2 separate regions of the Homo sapiens genome follow, and region 1 is linked to region 2. Evidence: fine-mapped expression QTL. A gene starts in region 2. The other region holds a variant in brackets. All regions are shown on one strand. Distances are from middle to middle.

Region 1 (2,909 bases), 160 kb after region 2:
TCACAAGAAACAAAACCAAAACCGACAAGCAAACAGTAGTCTCGCAGGTTACTTCCTATTGCGATAAGCTACACTAAATGTTACCGAATTTGATTATACCCGAAAAACATTGTACGGTCTGTCATAATGTTGGGTGTTAAATTAATAGTTCATTTGTTTTCTCTCAAAAAAGCATATAAGGAACAAAACAATTTGGGCTTAGAAAAGTGAACTATATGGAAAGAAAATGTAATGAAGTTTGCATAAGCTAAAGACTGTAAGTGCTGAATACTGTTTTATGTGAAACAGCTGCTAAAACTATGTTGAGCTGATGAAAGAGATGGAGTTGGTGGAGGTCTATGTTTAGGATAAGAAGGGACATGGTATTTCATCTCCCTCTGTAGCATATCAATAGATAATATCAAAGGCCATAAAGCAAATCATGGCCAGTCTGTTCTCCTGCAACATGTGTCTCTGGAATAAGAATTGCTTTGTATGTGTTTTTCACTCATATATGCAGAGATTCTGTTGGTCCATGGGAGAGTTTTTTTCAGTAGTTATTTGGAATTTATCAAAGGTAAACTTTCTTAAAATTTAAGAGGAAAGCGTTAGCAATATGCAAAGATCTTAAGAAAGAAAAAGATGAAAACTTTTATTGAAGTGCCTTCCTTCAGGAAAAATTGTGACATTTTAGTGCCTTTAATAATTACTACAATTTCCATTAACTGAAGGTGTAGGGGGAAGCTGAGGAGATGTTGATGAAGAACGTACAAGGTCATTTCTCTCTGTATTAGGAAAAGATTGATGATGAAGTCTACCCCTTGAGAAAGATTTTTAATTTTGATGAAACTGGTCTCTATTAGAAGCAGATGCCCCCAAGTATTAACATTTTGAAGAAGAGAATAAGAGCTCCAGTGTGGTAGGCTGCACAGGATCCAAGCACTGTGTTGCTGGATGAAAATGACACTGGAGATTTATTTGTGTGACTCATTTTATTACGTTTGATATGTAGTTGATGCTCCACATTTCAAAGTTTTGAGTGGTCTGCCCTCAACCCTAGTTTGCTCATAAATCTGTTATTTTTAGCCCTCAACTTCTGGAACTCTCAGCCTTTTT[G/TG]GTAATATATTTGCCATCACAGCAAAAATACTTGTGCTTAGAACTATGGAGATAAATGCCAGAAGAAACAGCTAAAATAGATTAAAGTATTGCCTTTGGAGAATAGTAATTGAGAATAGGGAGGTATGAGAGCATGGGAATTCTCTTTTCTTTAAAAGCCTACTATGTATAACTTTGATAAAAATAAATTTTAAGTACAATAATAACTTCTAATGAAAAAGACTTGAGCAAAGAACACTATATGTCTAGGAATATAATGCATGAAACTGACATCCCACTTAGTAATATCATTCAGAAATACTGAGCAGATCTTAACAAGCAGTCTTTAAACATATAGCTGAGCCCTTAAGAAAGTAAACCACAGACAAAAAATAAAGAATTAAAAAACAGGGTTGCAGGTGTGGGGCTCAGCTCTCTGATGGGACAGAGAGGAAAGAAGAGTTGAGAAGTTGTTTTGAAGTCTCAGCAAAGAAAGACATTGGGGCTGGGACTCAAACATAAAGCCAAGACCCTCAAATGGCTTTGCCACAATTAATTGACATCATATCTGTCCTCACACTTAAAATTGACTTAAAAACATCCTTGTCTATCTTTTATTTTGGCCAGGACTGTATATAGAAGAAAAAAATCTCACCTGAGATTTTTTGCTATAACTCTGCTCTTGTGGATGTTTGAGAATTAAATTTATACTAGCTCCTTCAGCTAATAAATTAGACCAAAATGTGGTCCCAGGCTGGTGATACTCTGGGGTGTCTGGCAACGGCAAATTCAATGCATATCCTTACCAAGGCCACTCAAGAGACCACATGTAATATCCAGCTGAATGTGGGTTCACATCACAAAAGTACAAAATCCACCAAGAAATAGTCCAATTTTTAGCATTTCAACAAATGCTTATCAAGACCAATTCTGTGCCAGGCATTGATCTTGGCACTAGGATAACAGCAAAGAAGAAAAAATTAAAAAAAAAAAAAATTCCTCAGAGGAACTTATATTCCAGTCAAGGAGACAAAGTGCAGACCCAGCAAAAACTTCGACAGAATTAAATTCCCCAAACTTTAGAGAGTAGAACTATTGGATAACCTATGAAATACAAACATTGCTGAAAGAGAACACTAATGTATACATTAAAATAACTAAATAGAAACAAAAATGAAAAATGCAATCATTGAAATAATAACCAAAACCGATTTTGAGTGATGGTTTAAACAGCCAATTTAACAGAGACGAATGTAGAAACTGGCAAATAAATAGAAGAAAACTACTTGGAGTGCAGTAGGTGATATCCTGGGGTGCCTAGACAAAAAGAAGAGACAATGTGAAAGACAGTTTGAAATTCGAAGAAGGGAATGAAAAGGTCCAATTACTCTCAAGAGAATGAGAGAGATAATATGCAAAAAATACAATGAAGTGTTATTCAGCCTTAAATATAAAAGAAGATCCTATCATTTGGGGGGACATAAATGAAACTGGAGGACATTATGCTAAGTGGAATAAACCAGACAGAAAGAAAGATACTGCATGATCTCATTTATCTGGAATGTAAACAAAAGTTGAGAGCAGAGTAGAAAGGTGATTACCAAGGGTGAGAGATGGGCTGTGGAGAGATAGTACAAGGAATACAAAGTTGCAGTTATGAGGAGAAAGAAGCCTAGAGATCTAAGGTATCGCATGAAGACTATAGTTAATAATATCCTATTGTACACTGGAAATTTGCTAAAACAGTAGATTTCTCTTTTTAACACAAACACACACACATTATGTGTAACGACGGATACGTTAACTTTCTTGGTTATAATAATTTCACTCTATTT
Region 2 (2,885 bases):
GCTTTTGGCGGGGTATGATTGCTGACCTGCCTTTGAGGGCAACTTCCTTTGGCTCAGGTAAGCAGGCAAACCCGTTTCTCCAAGGCGATTCCAACCCCACGCCCCTCAAAACCTTAAATCTTAAATTGAGTTATTGGGTGCAGGTCCTTTCTCCCACAGAACCTCCCAGCTTCCGGAATAGAGGAGCGGGGCAGAAATATCCTGCTTTTTATTTCAGAGCTGACGTTTGCAATCCTAGTGCACTAGCGGAAAAAAAAAAAAAAAAAAAAAAAAAAAAAAGCTGAATTTTCCGCGCTCTCCTGGCAAATTGGCGTCCGCTCTCCGACGCTAAACCAAAGGAAAAGGAGTGTTCAATGGCGACAGGGCGCTCTTTGAAGCCGGCTCCTCACGCGGATTCTGGCCCAGGCCGCCGCTCCGGTCCCAGTCCGGCTGCAGAGCGAATTGGAGAGGATGGCACCTCCTGCTTCCCGGGGGGCGGAAGGAGCGCCAGCGCCTAAGGTGGGTCACCTGCCAGGAAGGGAATACGCATGGTGCAGACTCACGTGGGAGGAGCACAGGTCCCGGGTACAAGTGCCGAGCTGGCGACTTAGAGAAGAGGTAGACTCGGGCTCAGACCAAGCAGGCGTAAGGGAGTAGACGGGACGTCCCGTGTTTGCAGTGACGGCGGAGTCACCCATCCCAGCAGCCTCACCTTCTTGGAGCGCTGGTCCCTCCCCTTGGACTGAAACCCCAGGGGCCACCGCACCGGGTGGGCGGGACCGACTACTACCCGACCAGCCGCTGGAGCTGCGTGCCAGGCGGGGCTGTGCGGAGCAGCTGAGCGCAGAGCGGAGCACCAGGCACCTAGCGGGCCGGACTCTGGGCGGCACCCGAGCGGGCCGGGCAGCAGTGGGCGCTCGCGATCCTCCTCTGCCCAACGCGCTCTCCCTCCGGGCCCGGCCTCCTCCGTCCCCTCCTTTTGCTCCCGCTCCTCCTCCCGCTCCTCCCCCTCCTCGGGATTGAGCACCAAAACGCCCGCCTGCAAGGTCCTCTGCGCCCTGGCAGCCAGGAGTCGCCGCCACGACAGCCGGGTCTCAGTGGGTGCCTGCGCCTTCTCCCCGCCCGCCTGCCCCGGGCCATCCAGAAACTTGCTCTACCCGCCGCGGGTGCTCGGCAGTGCTGCCCATGGCCCAGCCTAGGAGCCTATTTAGGGCGCCGGACGGGCTGGACAGAGGCGCGGCTCAGGTGAGTGCGGCGCGCGCGGGGTGGGAGAGTGGCAGGACGCAGGTGTAGAGGGCTCCGAGGTGCCTTTGTCTGGCGTTCTGGACTTCGGGCAAGTGCAGAACCTAAGAAGAATCGAGGCTGGAGCAGGTGGAGTGGATGCAGAGGGAACCAGGAAGCAAAGGCTGGGGATTTTCCCATCCTCCTCACCTCCTGCCCTAGCACCTCTGCTCTGGAAGTCCCGAGGGACCGGTTGATCTGTAAGGACAGGGACCCAGATTTCTGACTCTTACTGGGTTGGATGTTTTCCCCCCCTGCAGAGTCGTGAGGTTCGCTCCTGCCGGCCGCTTCGCGACCGCAGCTTCACCATAGGACCCTGTAGGGCAGCGAGAGCGCAGCACTCAACGGATCCTGGGTACCACCTGGGGCCAGAAACTGGGGCGAGGACACAGCCCGCAAAAGTAACTCGGCTGAGGGAGCCTTTGGGGGTGGAGAAGCCTTGGTCGGGTTTGCCTTTGCATTTGGTTGGAGATAGGCATCTCCCAAAGAGAGAGATTGAGGTGACAGCCCTGACAATAAACCTCTCATCCCTAATGCCAATTACATGAGGGTCTTGATTTTTTTCTTGTTACTTTTTACTGATTTTTTTCCCCCTTCGTGGTTTTCTATTTCCGGGCCCTTGGGTAGTGGCAGCGGATGGAGGTGAGGGATGGCGGGGTGCGAACCCGCGGTTGGAACGCCTAGACCCCAGCTCCCAGGAAGGGTCTTATTCGCGGAGCTTGACCTCTCCAGGTGCGCTCTACCAGCCAGGGGGCGGACGGCGCGCTGCTCCTCCTTCTAGCCCCAGCCTGTCCCAGGAAGCGGAGGACAGACCCAGAACGTAGGCGGATGATGGGAAGAAGAAGCTGGAGCCAAAGCCGGGTGCCGGCGCGGGATGGGGTGTGCTGGGCTCTGCAGTTATAGGTCTATAACTCTGCAGTTATAGGCGCTATAGGTCTTCCATCTCTTTCCCTCCCCTGGGAGCCAGCGATTCCTCGCACACTCAGGGCGCTCTCTTGGGCCAAGGGTTGCATCCTCCCTCTTCCTCCTCCTTTGCAGATCCAGTGGTACCCTTGCCTCGCCTTGCGCGAGTCTCGCTCCTCCCTTTCCCACAATGTTATCATGAGCTATTTTTATCTACAACTTGTGCCAAGATGCTTTTGGGGGGATTCTAGGGAGGCCACTCCAAATCCACTGTCTTTGCGCTGCGCTCCGAGAAACAGTCTCCTGTTAGCATGGAGCAGCCTCAAGGAGTGGCGGGGAGGGTGGCCGAGAACGGAAGGAGCCAGTCCGCCCTCTTCTCCTCCCTCAGCCCTAGCCCCGGAGGGAAACCCCGCCACCACCAGCTCGGCTGCGCCTCCCGCCAGTAGCCCCGGAAGAGGGTCCCCAGACGAGTCCCCACGCTCCCGCTTTCAGGCGCTGGGTGCTTGGACACTGCTGAGGCAGCAGCCTGGCACAGGCAGGATCCTTCATTCCCACCCGTGCGTTCTCGCTTTGCAGGCAAATCTCATTTTATTTTGTTGAAATGCTTCCACCCAAGGGTTAATTCCAGGAATTCCATCTTTAAAAAAAAAAGAAAAAAAAAGGAGGGAGAAATAACCCAACTTCTGCCTCCCTGCATTTCTAAAGCAAAGCGCATCCTTTGA

Alleles and levels. Alleles are on the strand shown, and positions count from the first base shown. SD is a standard deviation of normalised expression in the study named.
As copies of G replace TG in region 1, the expression in subcutaneous fat of the gene that starts at base 1,029 in region 2 goes down (small effect, 0.24 SD a copy in GTEx).

The links.
Region 1: its variant is fine-mapped to the expression of HS3ST1 in subcutaneous fat (GTEx, PIP 0.97).

Annotation. Positions count from the first base shown.
Region 1 is chr4:11,263,139-11,266,047 of GRCh38, reverse strand. All of the region lies in intron 1 of LOC105374488 (a long non-coding RNA gene), which reads right to left. Among named protein-coding and RNA genes, the nearest start is that of MIR572, 100 kb to the left of the region's middle. The variant G/TG (reference allele first, on the strand shown) is at 1,096.
Region 2 is chr4:11,427,038-11,429,922 of GRCh38, reverse strand. HS3ST1 (heparan sulfate-glucosamine 3-sulfotransferase 1) reads left to right here and starts at 1,029. Exons shown (of 2, transcript NM_005114.4): 1 at 1,029-1,224. RefSeq lists a silencer at 884-1,063 and an enhancer at 1,154-1,373.